Linked DNA regions of Homo sapiens: region 2 is linked to region 1. A link means that fine-mapping ties the variant in region 1 to the expression of a gene that starts in the linked region. Tissue or cell type: whole blood. Region 1 holds a variant in brackets; the other region holds the start of a gene. All regions are shown on one strand. Distances are between the middles of the regions.

Region 1 (8,192 bases):
ACTGGGTCAGGCAGGTCACAAACCAAGCTCCTCCTACACAGTGAGTTCACGGAGACAGAGAGAAGGAAGGGAAGGAGGTTCTCAGCTCTACTGATTCCTTAGGTCAAGGAGGGACAGGGTCCCTGTACTTGGGGACCCTCCAGTCTGATGGGAAGATACAAGGCAACCCTCTTAGAGCCGTAGAATGAATGCCACCTATAGTTCCTCCCTTCAGGAAGGAAATCCAGTCTGATGGAAGAGACACGGCCCCTGTTGTATCATTCTTGCCTTCTTACCCATGTCACACAAGGGAGTGAAGGAGGTGGCAGGCCCAGGGATAGGTCCATTTCTGTGGTGAATGGAGGCTTTCAGAGGACATTCCCACAGCCCTGCTGTCAAGGGCCCCTTCCCCTTCCTCCCTCCCCGGCACGATGCCTTACCCACTGGAATGAATCCTGAGCTCTGAGCCTATTCCTAACACATGAATGCTGACCCCTTTGTCACGTCCCGCTTTCCCTCCAACTCTGTTTTTTGTTCTTTTTCCCACCCAGACTCGCCCTCCCCCACTTGCCATTTCCCAAGCTCATCCCGGGGAGACCAGACTCAATGGCCCACTGGTGATCTTGTTTTACATGAGACATTTCCAAAAAAGACCAAAAAATCCTTTCCAGGAAAATGCCATTTTTAAAATTCAGCTCCAGACACTGCGGCAACATTAGGAAAACAAAGGACTTGGCAGAAAGGTTTTCTGCGTGGGGACTTTCTCTCGAAAATACCTTCTCCAAATTGCCTCCAGTGGGGATGACTCCAAGGGTCAGTTCTGGAGCACCCAGGCAATTGCAGACAGAGTGACTTCGGGTTTGTACACTGTCCCAGGTCTTTCCTTACCTGATATCACCCTGGGATCTTCCAGGCTTAAACAAGGAGCCCCTTCCAAGGGTCCCCAAAGGAAGCAGCTGTCTCTGAGGGTCAAGAAATAATGCTGCTTCCTTCCTCCAGAGGGGACTCCTCAACCCCTCTCTTGCCACCATCACTAAGCCAGGGGCCCAGGTTAGGAGGTGGAGGGACATAGTGTGCTTAGTAGAGAGCTTGTCTTCTCTTATCATCCAAGTGAGAGGAATACACAGCTTCCCCTGGGGCATACATAGTGGTGTTCCCCTTTTTTGCATGTATCAGGTATAATTAATCAGGTTGACATCACATATGTAATAATAATGGCCATTATTTATTAAACACTTCCAATGTGTCCACGAGTAACCTGTTCTTTATGTTTGTTTTACCTCATTTAATCCTGGTAACGATTGTCATGGGCTGAATTGTATCTACCCACTCCCCACCACTCAACAAGACTCGTACGTTGAAGTCCTAACCCCCAGTACCTCTGAATGACTGTGTTTGGAGACACATCCTTAAAACAGGTAATTAAGTTAAAGTGAATCATAATTAGGGTGGGCCCTAATCCAATAGGATTGGTGACCTTACAGAAGAGGAAATGTGAACATTGTTAGGCACATGCTGGGAGGCAAGGACATAGCGAGAAGGCAGCCATCCGCAAGCCAAGGAGAGGGGCCTCGGAAGAAACCAAACCTACCGGTACCTTGATACTGGACTTCCGGCCTCCAGAACTATGAGAAAATTAATTTCTGTTGTTTAAGCCATCCAGTCCATAGTATCTTGTTATGGCAGCCTTAGCAAACTAATACAACACCCATACAATCAATCTTACCATCTTACCATTTTACAGAGGACAAAACAGTCTCGAGAGGGTATATAACTTTCCCAGCAAGCATATAGCAGAGCTGAAAATGCATAATCAACTGCGTGACTCTGGAACACAAGCTCTTAGAACTGGATCCTGCTGCTTCTCCTCTGTGCTCTACTATGCAAGTTCATGATCCATTTACTTATTGCTACAAAATAAACCATCCACAACTTATTGGCTGAAAACAACAACTTTTATTTTGCTCATGAATCAGCAATTTAGGCAGGGCTTGTTGAGAACAGCTCATCCCTGCTCCACTTGGTATCAGCTGGGACAACTTCAAGGATGATCTGACAATTGATGCTGGCTGTTAGCTGGGACCTTAGGTGGGGCTGCTGGTCCAAAATTTCATGTGGACTCTCTATGTAGCCTGAGCTTTCTCCTAACATAACAACTGGTTTCAAAGGCAAGCATCCCGGGAGACAGAGCCAGGCAGAAGCTTCTCTAAACAGCCGTAGCAGACACACAGCATCACTTTCGCCACATTCTCTTCCTTTGAAGCAAGTCACTGAGGCTGGTCCATGTTCAAGGGGAGAGGAATTCAATGCCACCTCTCAGTGGGAGGAACATCAAGGAATTTGCAGACATGTTTCAAAACCATTACAATGCATGTGCCATTGACATGCCTGAACATATTTTATGTCAAGTGTTTATTTACCACCAGCACAGTATCATCGAAAGGACATCAGACTGGAAGTCCAAAGTCCTGAACAAGAGCCTGTCAGCTGTGTGGGGCTGGGATTTCAACACCCATCTATGAAAAAACCAGTACCTGCTTGTCCACTCAGTTCAGCCACCCTCTATATGGAAATGAGGTCACTTAACCCCATTCCAGTCTCTAAAACCAATACTAATCCCAGTCAGCAGGTTAGTTAGAATGCTGCTCCTGGGGCACTTTATTTGACTCTCAGTTATGATAGCCTGGGTTCTCCCTGTCTCTGTGCCTGAGCCTGTCTTAGAAACGTAGCAGTCTATGTGTGGAGCACATCCTCAGGACTAGGCACTGTCACTGGTGCTTTATGTTTGCTATCTCATTCAGCTATTTCAACCCTATGAAGGAGGTTTCTTTATGCCCATTTTACAAATGAAGAAACTGAAATTCAGGGCAGGTAAGTCATTTGCCCAAAAGTTAGTAAAGGGCAGAGCCAGAACTATGAGTTGTGCTGTGGCCAGCTCTGTCTCCTCCAGGATCTGCTGTCCTGCCCCTGGACTGCCTGCCAGGACATCTGATGGCTTCTGGGTTGTCTGTACCTCTGCTCCTCTTGCCTTTTAGGGCCTCACCATACTTCTTGTTGAACCTTATCCCTGTCTCCTTCATGAACGACTCACTGGACTTCTACCATCCTGCATTCATCCTCCTGATCTAACTCCATATCCCAGCCCTCTGCATCTGCCCCAGCCTATCGTGCCCAACTGCACAGTGTCCTGGCATGGCTAGAGAGCAAGATCAAGCAAGAGAGCATCACCAGTGAAAAAACAAAAGCTCTGGAGTCAGACCGATCTAGATCCAAATGGTGGAGTGAGCTCCACCGTTTATTATTTGTGTATAAAAATAATGACACCCATGTTGCCTCGTTGTGAGGATTCTCGGTGAGTTAATACAAGTATAGGGCTTGGCATAGTGCCTGGCACCTAGCAAATGCTTAGTAAATATTAGTTATCTTTGCTGTTATTATCAATAATACTTGTAAAAGATCCACTAGAGAGCCTAGCATATGGTAGGCATTCAAAAAATGATAGCTGTTAATCTCATTGTTTAAGTCCTGGAAAAGCTACAGGAATTCAGAGAAGAGCCAGATAACAAGGTAGCAGAGACAGAAAACAGGCTGCCCAAGTAACTGCGCAGATCTGCAGATCTGTCTAATCCTAGAGCTTGGGTATGACTGGCCTTGATTAAGTGGAAACGCCTCCCTACAGAACTCCCATCTTCATCTGCCTCGATTAGGAGATGACAAGAGCTTCCTGAGCTTGGAAGCCCCTGGGAAGAGGAATTTCAAGAAGGAAAATCAGAAACACCCTGTCTGTGCTACGACTGCCCAGGATCCTCTGCTGTGGCAACATATATCACTGGCCACCCCACTGTGCCGTGTTCATCTAGTTGTCCTATATAGGTCTGTGGTTTCACAGGCTTCATCTGAGCCTGCAAGTTCTCAGAAAGTGGGTGAATGTGGTCAGAGTATGTTTCAGCCTCCCAGCCTCAAACCCACTCCAGGTTGAGATGTCAACAAAAACAGCAAGCAGGTGGG[T/A]AGAAAGCAACCATCAGATTTATAAAAGAGCTGTCAGATAACCACACACAGGCACTCACACTTGTGAGCATTTGAGAGCTGTGGTGCTGGTGCCCTCTTTTACCTTATTTTTCCTGCTGCTACCCTCCCAGGATCCTCACAACTAGATCCACCGATGCTCACAGCTCCTGAGTCAATGCTAACCAAGCTGGAGAGTATGTAAAGTTTGAGCAGATACAACGGCTTGGAATAATGTCACCAGCTCAGTTACAACTACTTGGCTCCTGTGTTCCTCCTGATTTTCCTTCAAGCCAGATGATCAATGAGGTGACAGGTATTTCCCCCAGACCACTCTCATTTCCCTTTTCCAATCATACATGGATCTGGTGCCCTCAGGGATGACCTCTAAGAACCCACATTCCTGCACCACGTTGCCTCTGAGCCTGAGCTCTCCTCTCCCCTCTCCTGGGCCCATTGTGATACAATCAGGCTCTTCTGTCCCTAATTTTGCCTAGGACCCAGTTCTTCTCTGTATAAGTCAGACATTGCTGTGATAATACTATGTAATAAACCATCCCATAATCTTAGTGGCTTACAAAAACAAACATTTATTTTCCTCACTCACAATCTGTGGGTTGGGTAGAAGGGCTGTGATTCAGGTGGTGAGTTGGGTACAGATCAGTTCCATATCTCTCTCCTGGAACCAGCAGCTACCTGGGATAGGCTCTTCTCATTACATATGGAAGCAGCACACAAAGGGGCTAGTGGAAGCCTCCCATGACTCTTAAGGCCTCAATTCAGAACTGTCTCGTTGTCACGTCCATCCATATTTCCATTAGCCAAAGCAAGGTAACTGGCCAAGCCCACAGCTGACAGCATGGGAATATAGGCTCTACCTCCTCTAGTAGGGTGCATGTAAAGCCATATGGCAAAGGGCATGGGTATATAATTCTATTGCAGGGAGGGAGTGGAGAATTGGAAATAATCATTCAGTCTCCAACATTTCTTAATCTAGAACTCAGTTACAAGCTCACCTGAGGGAATATACATCTTTTACTTGCCTGCTGGGCCTTCTACCCCTGATCCCAGCCCACTGGCCTAGGATGTGACTCTGAGTGAAGAAGTGTCTCACATGGAGACCCCGCCCACTTGGCTGCCAGTCCTTGGCTGTCACCAGCATCATTTACTCTGATCCACCCACCTGACTGTTCCTCTGGAATTCTTGAAGAAGCCTACCAGCCTAATTGGCTCCTCAGCCCTTATCTATACTGGCCTCAGGAGGGGCTAGAACCAAGAACTCAAAAACTGGAAAAACATTGGGGAACCAAGCAGTTTCTCCCACTCTCTCACTCTGCACTTCTGCTTCCTTCTCGCTGTGGGCATCAGCTTTCTCTGCTCCTCAATGGATGGTGGAATAGGGCCTGCTCTAGGCCTGGAGCCACTTTTGGCACCATCACCAGGATAAAGAGAATTCCAGTGTCCCATTTCCAGAGTCCCAGAGAAAGACCCCGGTCAACCATGGCTGGTATCATGACATAGAAACATGGTTGCCTACCCCTCTAGATGGAGGAGAAGAGAGGTGTGAGCTGCCAGACAGTAAGAAAAGCATGGAAACCAGAGGTTTCAGGCTGTAGTCTTCTGAGCTGACTCTGGCCAGAGATGTGTTTTGTTTGGCCCAAGGGATTTTTTTAATGTTTTCAATTACTTGACAAAAGTTAGAAATTGAGAGTTCACATATGAATCCAAATACTTTTTTCTTAAAAAAACTGAAAGGTCTCAATTGGAAAGGAGTGTGAGGGGCCTTATGGGTCCTGATGCTGTTCTGTTCCTCAATCTATGATCTATTCATGGAAAATTTATCAAGCCATATACTTAAAATAGATCCACTTTTCTATTTGTATATTACACCTTCTTTAAGTTTTAAGAATTTAGAAGGTCTATAATGAAATCACATTCCAGCAAGGAATAAGTCCTCTGGAGCTGAGTAGTTTTCCATACCACCATACCCCTCACTACTCCCCATTCTCTTCCTATCACTGAGGCCGAGGGTCAGTAGTCACTCATCATCGTCCTAGACTATGATTTTCTTATAACAGAGTTGGGAAGAAAGTAACTTTTATATGGACATTCATACATACATATCCATAACTCAAGCAAAAGGACAGACACAAAAGAGCATCAACGAGAGCTATGTGTTTGCATGTTTGCAAAAAAAAAAAAAAAAAAAAAAACGGAAAATAGCTTTTTATTTTTGGAGAAGTTAAAATCATTCTTCCAAGTTTGACATGCAAATGAAATGTGTCAGTATCAAAAGAATTCAAACAAAAAAGCTGTGAGGCTGGTAGGGAAACTTAACGATCTAAAAGAAAGTACTGATGTTTTAACATGTTTTATTTTTCAAAGCAAATAAAACAAATGACACAACTGTGAAATGAAGTTATGGAGAAGGAGAAAATATTGCTCATGCATTGAAACCTTTTATTAATGGTGAGTTTACAAAAGAGAATCTACTGAGGATAGAGAAATTCATACCTTGAACAAAAACAAGTATTTGCAAATGGAAGACTAAACAGAAACGCTGGTTGCTCAACAAGATGACGACATGGCTGAGAACTTACAGGACAGGTTGTGTGAAAAAGTTAAATCATTTGTGGCATTTCCTAGTGAAGCTTATGAGAGCCCAGTTAAAATAATACCACCCAGTCAGCTATATTTATTTATGGTTCCAAAGAGACTTCAATGTGATTGGAGAACTTTTGGTCATGGTGTCCATCACAGGCACAATTTCAGGAAATTACTTAGCTTTGTGTGTTGAGAAGCCTTGAAAAACTTAAAGCAGACAGGTCAAAATTAGTAAGCCTGGCTACAAAACAGAGCTCCTGAAATGATCAGCATTAACACTGACCTTGTTATGAATCTTAAATCTAAGGTGGCCAATTTTGCACAATTAGGGAAACTAAATAATTCACCAGGAATTGCCTTGTGCTAAAAAGTTAAAATAGAACACATATCATGGGCCTAGTGAATGGGACTTACTCCCATGGCTAAAAGCATAAAGAGTTCAGTGCTTTGCCTGATAAAGTGGATATGCAGTAGTCATAACACTCGTCTGTTCTAATAAATAAAGGGTAGTTAGTGTGTAATGTCGGGGTCTTTCATGGGTGGGAGGGGAGGAACAGCTGAAAAGTTATTAACTTGTTCATATCATCCAACAAAAATACCCCAGCTCACCAGCAAAGATTGGATCAAAGTATATGCCTTTTCAGTAAATATCACAAGCCATTTAACCCTTTTGGGTATCTCTTTAAGAATTATCACAAATATGCAAATGGCTATTCAGTTTTCTCATTCTTAGTGAAATTATATCTTAGGGAAACTCATTTGGCAAAGAATCATCTGGCTTATTTTCCTATGCTGAAATCAGTTTTCCAAAATGAAAGAGGTCTCTTCAACTGCTCTCTAAAAATTCTGGAGCTGAAGACAGGATGAGATTCCAAAAAAGTTGCTAGTTTTATGAAAATGATCTTTCTCAATATTGTGCCACAAATGCAATTTTTTGAACTCACCTTTCTCAGTATTGTAATATAAATGGAATTTTTTGAACCACAATTCATTCCCTAAAACTAAATTTTGCAACATTGGAATGCCAGAATTCTACAAATATCTCAGGAGTGGTTACCCTAAATATAAAAACCATCATACAAATATTCTATCAATGCTCAGCCATGAACAGCTGTTTTCCATTATGAAACTAAATAAAACGATTGCTCTCAGTTAAAAGATTCAAGGTTGAATTCTATACAGCACATCACAACATGAAATGCAAGACTCAACATTGACATGTTGGGGTAAAAGAAAAAGTGTCACATTTCTGGTTGTAAAGCAAAGAAGTAATGAGGTATGAAAGAAAAAAATTAATAATTACATATTTCTTTTTTTAATGTTACATTTTTCAATTTCAAACTTAATATATAATCCCCAATATCACACGTTTATATTATATTATGTACTTATGCCCTAGTCAAGTAAAAATGAAAGTTTGATTACATTTCTGGCTGTTGATTTTTCTTAAACCCAGTCCACTTTACTCATTTTTGTTGCCATTCTGAATTCTGTAAGAATCTGAGTTTACAACCTCTGGTGTACACTCTACATGTATGTTATTTTCTAGGAAAAAAATTCTCATTGAAAAATAACACATGCTCAGTTGCTCAATGATGAAAACA
Region 2 (8,173 bases), 150 kb after region 1:
GGGCTGGGGCCAGCTCATGGAGGCCTGAAGGCCAGTTCAGCTTATCCTCCAGGTTTTTGAGTAGGACAGTAATACTCCAAAAGAGGTGTCTGAGCCTTGGCCTGCAGAGAAAAAGATGGACAATAAAGAAGGCAGATGGGAGGCTAGAATAACCCTTCAGACAGTCTAGGATGATGTGACAGAAACATGCAGAAAGAAGGTATTTAAAAGACACCTTAAAGAAAATTTAGCATTTTGGAGTCTGGGCCATCTGCCCTCTTCCCAAGGATTAATATCCAAGTAAGTGTTTTGAGTGGGGTAGGAGCATGGCAGAAAGATAGAGGGAGCAAGAAAGCATAGAGCATTGGACGTACTGAGCCTTCCAGACCTTGCACAGACACTGTGGTCTGAGGGCTGCCAGAAGCCCTGGGGGAGACAGGGAGGACTGCCAGCTGATGGCTCCTGTATGAAGATGGCACTGAGGGCTCTGAGCTGGACACTGGCCTGCAGACTCTGGCCTGTGAGGCCCAGGCTATGGGCTCCACCTGGTCTTTGAGTGGGTGGGCAGACTGCAGATCAGGGGCCTGCAGCAGCATTTCATGTATTTCAATTCTTTGAAATGATTCCTCTCCCTGGGTGGCAGAAAGGAAAAAAAAAAAAAAAAGCAAACAAGCAAAATATAGTTAAGAACTCAAGAACTGCCAATTCAGAAACTCTAATCTGCTCAAAAAGTTCAATCCCTTTCTTTCAGAAGCCAAAAACCCATTTCCATCTCAGATTGTATATGTCTGTGTCTGAGAGCTGGTGAGGGAGACAGTGAGTATGCGAGGGAGGCCACTGAGATGCCTTTGTTCCTGTGTGTGAGCTACTGCTCTGAACTGCTCCGTGGACCTGTGTGTGTTGCACGCACATTTGTGCCTGTTTCTCAGGCCCCTGTGTGCCTTGAACTTTCAAACCATAACAGAAACACTGAAGCTTGGCAAAGATATCACAGGAATAATTATCTAATTTCAGAACATGTTATTATAATACCTACATGATGTGTAACAAACTTAACAATGTTCATGTTATATTCACCTACTCTGAGCTGTAGACTCACAACGCCAAGTTTTACCCTCAGAAGTTTCTCCAAAACACAAGGGCAGAGCAAGCCCCAAAGAAAGTTCTTCAGGGAATATTCCCCCACAACAGCTCCCTCACGGATTGAGACGTTTGGCTGGGTAGATGTCTATGGGGAAATTGCTGGAAGGAGGACAGAGCCTATCTTGGGATGGCAACTGTTCCTCCCAAAATCCTCATTCCTCCCCAGAAAAGAAGACATGGAACTGATAAGGAACTAGCAGCCATATTGGGGTGACACAGGCAGACAGGCTTTTCCTGATTCAGCTGTGGGCCGGGGGGGGCCTCCTAATCCACCCAGCTCCCCGTTTTCCCCAGGGGTCTGAATTGGACCAAGGCTGAGTGTGAGGGGAATGGTTTGCTGTTTGCTGCTGTTCCCTGTTGACTTTAGCCAGTAGCTCTGTTTACAAACCCAGGTTGGTTTTCCCAGCACAGTTAATTAGACCAAAGACATCTGGTGCAAGGCTGCGGAGAGGGCATCTGCTCAGAGCCTTCCCCCTACACCCTGCAGACTGCAGCCACGGCCCAGAGTGGGGCAGAACAGCTCTATCGGTACAGACCTGACTCCACCAGACCCAGTGTTCTCGGAGGAATCATGGCTTCCTTCACCCTGCCTTTCCATGCTTGCCAAGTCGGACTGGGCCCCAACTCCCCAAGCCATAGAGAACAAGGAGTCCGGGCTGGAAGGCCCACCTCAGTGGGATCATAGGCTGGAGATCAGGGACTCAGCTCTCTCCTCGGTCCTTCCATGTCCAAAGGAACAGGGCAGAAATTCCTGTCCCTTTCTCATCACAGACACTGCATTCTGTAGGAACGCCAGACCTCTTCAGGGAAAATCTCCCCTCCCTGGATACCCCCCCACCCACCCCCACCCCCAGAAAAAAGGCTGTGGACCCTTCTCCTCCCTGACCCCTCCCCAGCCAATCCCTGACACTGTGAGGAGGACAGAGATTAACCTGGCCCAGAGGGAGGCAGGAAGCTGCCCAGGAAGGTGAGAGGATCTAGGTGGGCAGTTTCAGAGTGGCGGGGAAGAGGAGAGCTGCGAGGGGGAGGGGCAGCGGCTTATCTCTCCCAGGAGGGGGGAGCTCACTCCAAACAGCTAGTGCACTGGCGTGTGAAAGCCCCTCAATTAGCACTAATGATGCAATCAGGGAGGGAGGAGGAGGGACCGAAGTTCTGGTGGCGTCAGCACCAACTTACACACAAGGTACACATTCCCTTCATCGGACACAATGGCCCCTTCAGACACGCCGAGGCACACACTCCACAGACAGCCGTCCGTGGGCACAAACGCACTCTTTGCCCAAGCTACTAGCATGCACATGGTTTCTTATACGCGGCTGACCCCGTCAGACCCCAGGCATCTTGAGGGGTAGGGAGCGACCCCCAGCTGCATTTGGGGCTTTAGAGGCAAGGAAAATCAGAAACACTTTGGTAAAAGGAGTTGAACAGGGCATCCTCGGCGAGCTCACGAGCATTCCTCTATGCCTAGAGCTCCTGTCCCACGCGCGCTCGCAGGTGCTGGCCCGGCTGTGCCCGCTTCCCCCTCACCATCGCCCCAATCCGGAATCCGGGGCTGAGCGAGGAGCCGCCACCCCCGGCCCCACCCGCGAGAGACGGGGTCCACGCGCCTTCCCTGCGCCCAAACCGCCCCGAGGCCCCCAGTCCCAGGAGGGAGCGCTGAGATCACTCGGATCTCCGCACCCCGGACTTAGCTGCTCGTCCCCTCCGGAGCCCGCTACCCGCCGGCCTCGCCCCTTTATCTTTCCCCCACTCCGCCCGGCCGGCTCCGTTATCCACCTCCCAATCCCGTTATCCGGCCGCCCCGGCCCCGTTATCCGCCCTCGCGTTGGGCGCGGAGCCCCCGCGCGCCTCCTGGCCGCCGCCGCCCCCTCCCCCGCTCCCAGACGGAGCTCGGGGGACCGCGGGCTGGGCGGGACCGCGGGCTGGGCAGGACCGGAGCCGCCTCCGCGCCGCTTCCCAGGCCCGGACGGCCGCGGGAGGAGGTCCCGCTGTCAGTCAGCGGGGAAGGCCGGGCCGGGCGGCCGGAGGGGGCGGCGCCGAGGACGGGCTCGGGCCGGGAGCTGGGAGGTGGAGGCGGAGGGGCGGGGGAGGGGGCGGGGGAGGGGGCGGGGGCGGGGGCGGGGGGCGGCTCTGGGCCTTATAAGCGGCGGGGGCAGGGCGGCAGGGAGGCAAGTGTCAGGCCGATGTGTCGCCCGCGAGGGGCCGGGGTCGGGGCCGCCGGGGCCATGCGCGCGGGCTGGGCAGGGGGCCGGCGGGGCGCAGAGCGGAGCCGCCTCGGAGCCTGAGCCGCCCGGGGCCGGGGCCGGGGAGCCGCGCGGGGCCGGCCGGCCGGGGGGAGGGGAGCGATGCGGCGCCGGCGGGCGGCAGTGGCCGCGGGTTTCTGCGCCTCCTTCCTGCTGGGCTCCGTCCTCAACGTGCTCTTCGCTCCGGGCTCGGAGCCTCCGAGGCCAGGCCAGTCCCCTGAGCCTTCGCCGGCCCCGGGTCCGGGCCGTCGCGGGGGCCGCGGGGAGCTGGCCCGGCAGATCCGGGCGCGCTACGAGGAGGTGCAGCGCTATTCCCGCGGGGGCCCCGGGCCCGGGGCGGGCCGGCCGGAGCGGCGGCGCCTGATGGACCTGGCTCCGGGCGGGCCCGGCCTGCCGCGCCCCCGGCCCCCTTGGGCCCGGCCCCTGTCCGACGGCGCCCCAGGCTGGCCCCCGGCTCCCGGCCCAGGCTCCCCCGGCCCGGGCCCGCGCCTGGGCTGCGCCGCGCTTCGCAACGTGTCCGGCGCGCAGTACATGGGCTCAGGCTACACCAAGGCCGTGTACCGGGTCCGCCTGCCCGGCGGTGCCGCGGTGGCGCTCAAGGCGGTGGACTTTAGCGGCCACGATCTGGGCAGCTGCGTGCGCGAGTTCGGGGTACGGAGGGGCTGCTATCGGCTGGCGGCCCACAAGCTGCTTAAGGAGATGGTGCTGCTGGAGCGGCTGCGGCACCCCAACGTGCTGCAGGTACGAGGGTGGGGACGCGGGGGTAACGGTGTTGGCTGGGAGTGCCCAAGACCTTGTCAACCTGGCTGGAAGAGAACCCCTTGATCTGGAGTGCCAGTGACTGCACCCAGGCTAAGCTAGACGCAGAAACCGGACCATGGCCCTTCCCACTGCACCACCCTGCTTCTCACTCCTGGGTGGGCGTCCCTTTACCGGAGAACTCCTGGGTTTCTCGGCTTCCACACATCTCTTAAAGACAGGCCAGGACAGAGGCTCCCAAAACTCAGGGGGTGGGGCAGTCCATTAGGATTTAGGACTCTACTCCGGGCTGGAGTTAGGAGGTTGAACACCAGGGATATTACCCCAAGCCAAAATGACCCTAAGCCAAGACACTTGAGTCAGAATTCCAACTGTGTGATAAAGTCCCCCTTCTTGATGGAACTTCTCCCAACTTCCAGTGATTTGTCTGGTTTTGAAAATGAGACGGGACAGCAGTGGGGCTGGGAAGAGCTGGAAAGAGACCATGTGTCAGGCTTGATTCCTATAGAGTCTCCCCACCCACCCACCTCCAGCGCCACCCAGAAGACACTGGAAGGGGGCTGGGGAGCAGGCTAGAAAAAGGGAACACAGTCCTTCCCAGAAGTGAACTAAGGGTTCCCCAGGCCTTAAAGTGGGTCCTTGAGCCCCTGGAGAAGCCTGAAGGTCTCAGCTCAGTGGACAGACTGGCGGCCTGAGGATCTAAATGTCACACTGTCTGAGTGTATATAGATAGCCAAGAGGCTGGAAGGTTGAGAAGGCCAAATGCTCAGGTTCCTACTCAACGGGACTCTGCCTCGCCTGTTCACTGGAGACACAGGCGAGAGCTGAAACCCCCACCTTGTCCCCTCCAAGCTAGACTTTGAGTGGGCCTCTCACAGTCCCAGCACCGCCCTAACACTCCACGTCCTCTCTCTCAGGTCTCCCCCCATCCTAAGATTAGACAGACTATTCCCTTTGCACATGTCTGAGCAAACAGAGGGGAATCCCTGACCGCTGTTGGCCCGGTGAACATGGGTGTGTGCAGCCTCCCCAACGGATGAAATCTTGCACACACCTTCCACCTACCAGCCCACTCAAACTAACCTTTCTGCACCCAGCAGAAATGACTGGAAACCCAGGAGTCCCTCTCTCCTTTCCTTAGGAGTGAGATGGCACCCCAGCCCTGGAGGGAGATGGGTGGGCGTCGTAGAGCAGGAGAGACTGGCCCAAAAGTTGTTTATACTCCTGTTGGCTCCCAGTCTCCCCCTCCCCCATCGTATTCCCCAACCCTGGTCAGACACTTGTGACCGGGCCCTGGGCCCCAAACTGGTCTCAGGAGCTCGGGCAGAACCAACACTTGCGTGTAGTGAAGCCTGGCTGCACAGCTCACACCGTGTCTGCAGCTTCAGGGAGTGAGCCCCTGGTTACGTGGCCATTCTAACTGGGAGGATCTTGTACTCTTTCCTTCCCAGGGACTTTTGGGAACTTTTTGGAAACTCTAGGGTGTCAGCCAGATCCTGAGGGAGTGGAGAGGTCTTGAGTGACTTAGCAGGACATAAAGTCTTAGTTACTTGACTCAAGACCCCTCTCCCTTCAGACGGGTTTGATGTTTGATGTGCTTTCCTATCTTTTAAGAAACTTGTCCCTCACTCTTCCCGCCAGCTCAAACTTCCTGACAAGCATTCAGCTAACGCCCCACATATATATCACGTGACGGTCCTCCTCTGAAATGTCAGGCCCCCAGCCCAATTCTGAAGGCACCAAAGAAAAAATTACAACAGAATAGTTTTCACCCTTCCCTCACCAAACCAAGACCAGGGTTGTCTGGGGTTAGCTGTGTGACTCTTTATTGTAGAGTCCCAGACGAGAGTTAGTGGCCCCAGGGCACAAGGGTTGCTAAGGGAGAGAGGGTCACAGGTCCTTTCTACCCAGGAAAAGTGAAAAGTGGGGGGCCCTTTAGTGTGAGTTTAGGGACTGCTTTGATGGTGGCTCTCCCCCATTCATCTTCTGACCATCAGGCCAGTGTCGCTCTGGCCTCCTAAACACGGCCATCTTTGCTGGCAGGGAAGCCTACAGTGGGGTCTTCCTGCCCAGGAGGCTTCAGGGCAGGTGTACAGGGAACTAGAAATAATGCTGCTTTAATACCTCTGAGTTATTTAAAATTTCAAAACCATTTGACTGTTTGCTGAACTGGGGAGGAGTTAGAGAACATTTCTAGAGTTCCTAGTGGTGCAGGCTCACCACCCTCCCTCTCTGAGCAGCCCAGAATTGGTGCTGTGGATTCTAATAGAAAATGCCCAGGCTAGCAGGCCCCATTCTGCACCTCCCAGGGCTTTCTCTGGTCATGGGGATTGCCTGGGCGAGATCTTTCTATCCATTTTCTTTGACCCCTCCCCATCCCGCCCCTGACACACGCATACACACTCCCTCACGTGACTTGACTCCTCTATAGCCCAGGGCCAAAGGGCACAAGGGTCTCCCCTCCCCTCAACCTCTCCCCACCTCCCCCTCCCCCAGTCATCCTGGGGCCCCCAGGCCTTGGATGGGCCCCCAGGCCTGCCTGGGCCCAGATTCTGGCCCTGCTAGAGTATATTTCTTCTCCCAACCAAACAAAAGATGTGACTGAAATGCTCAGCCTCACGCTTCCTGGGGGGGGTTAATGGTGTCTTTTTATTTTTTCCTGAGGGGTGTTGATTAATACCTCGTTAACAGCGCATTTAACGACCTCCGGGTGTTTAATAACCTTCAGAAGTTTCCCACAAAGGCTCAGACTCTGGGCAAGAAAATGAGAACCAGGCCCCAGGGCTGTTCCCCTTACCTTCCCCCCACCCCACCAGGGTCTGGGGCTTCCCTGGACTGATGGGGAGGGGGTGGAGAGAGAAGAGGGTGCCTGGAGCTGCCCTGGCCCCCCAAGTCACAGCCCAAGAGTGAGGCCTTCCCCCATGCCAGCAGGATGACGGGGAGCTGAGGGGGCACTCCTAGGGCGGGAAGAGGACATGTGAGGACCTGGAGTGGCTCTGGGGAGGGTGTGAATGATGGTATGAGGGTGACAGTGCACAGGGATATCCACCCCTCCACCGCATAGCTCTCCTCTCCCTGAGTCGGGCCTGGACAACTCAGCCTTCGTGTTTCTACCCCACAGGGTGCTGGTTGTTTTGAGCACCATACGAGCCCCTAGCTGCTGTGGAGTATGTTGGAAGAGCCAGGGGGATGCCTGTGGGTGCTGTTAAGGTGGTAGTGACACTCAGGCTTTGCTTCCCAGAAGTCCCTGGGCAGTGCGGAGCTTCTCCCCAGATGACATAGAGTGGGCAGTTCCCTGTGACCGTAACCCCAAAAGAACTGATCTTCCAGGAGGAATCATCACTCACTACCACCCCCACTGATACACATCACTCATATGCAAAACACACCTGGGGATGTGCCCTCAGGTACCTTGTTCTTATCAACACTTGTTACCAGTCTAAGGGAACTTGCTTTTCCTCCCTCAAGACCCACGCAGAGAAAATTGAAGCTGCCAGAAGGTAGAAATGATGAGGGATAGATACAGATTCAAGGAGGGGAGGAAGGATAATGTCCAACCGTATGCTCGCTTGTGTATTACCAAACAGCATTCTTAGAAAAAACAGATTGTGGCCGGGCGCAGTGGCTCACGCCTGTAATCCCAACATTTTGGGAGGCCAAGGTAGGCAGATCACTTGAGGTCGGCAGTTTGAGACCAGCCTGGCCAACATGGTGAAACCCTGTTTCTACTAAAAAGACAAAAATTAGCTGGGCATAGTGGCAAGCGCCTGTAATCCCAGCTACTCGGGAGGCTGAGGCAGGAGAATCGCCCGCACCCAGGAAGCAGAGTGAGCTGAGATCATGCCACTGCACTCCAGCCTGGGCAACAGAGCGAGGCTGTCTCAAAAAAAAAAAAAGAAAAGAAAAGAAAAATAAATAAAAATAGGTTGTGGAATCCGAGTGGCACAAATTCACATCTTAGGCTCCTACATTGATCAGCTGTGCGACCTTATGCAAGCAACTTAACCTCTCTGAGTCAGCCTCCTCACCTGAAGTTGGAGATAATAATA

Evidence for each region. PIP is the estimated chance that this variant, and not a neighbour inherited with it, causes the effect.
Region 2: it holds the start of PKDCC, and the variant in region 1 is fine-mapped to the expression of PKDCC in whole blood (TOPMed, PIP above 0.99).

Annotation. Positions count from the first base shown.
Region 1 is chr2:41,892,815-41,901,006 of GRCh38, forward strand. It overlaps LINC01913 (long intergenic non-protein coding RNA 1913), which reads left to right. Exons shown (of 3, transcript NR_033996.1): 3 at 1-1,232. Among named protein-coding and RNA genes, the nearest start is that of LINC01913, 19 kb to the left of the region's middle. RefSeq lists an enhancer at 3,730-3,779 and a silencer at 3,910-3,959. The variant T/A (reference allele first, on the strand shown) is at 3,988.
Region 2 is chr2:42,044,733-42,052,905 of GRCh38, forward strand. It overlaps PKDCC (protein kinase domain containing, cytoplasmic), which reads left to right and starts at 3,289. Exons shown (of 7, transcript NM_138370.3): 1 at 3,289-4,106. The coding sequence starts at 3,468. RefSeq lists enhancers at 1,666-2,169, 2,170-2,674, 2,298-2,417, 3,918-4,177, 4,891-5,392 and 1 more and silencers at 2,588-2,877, 2,988-3,237, 3,388-3,567, 3,578-3,677, 3,808-3,877.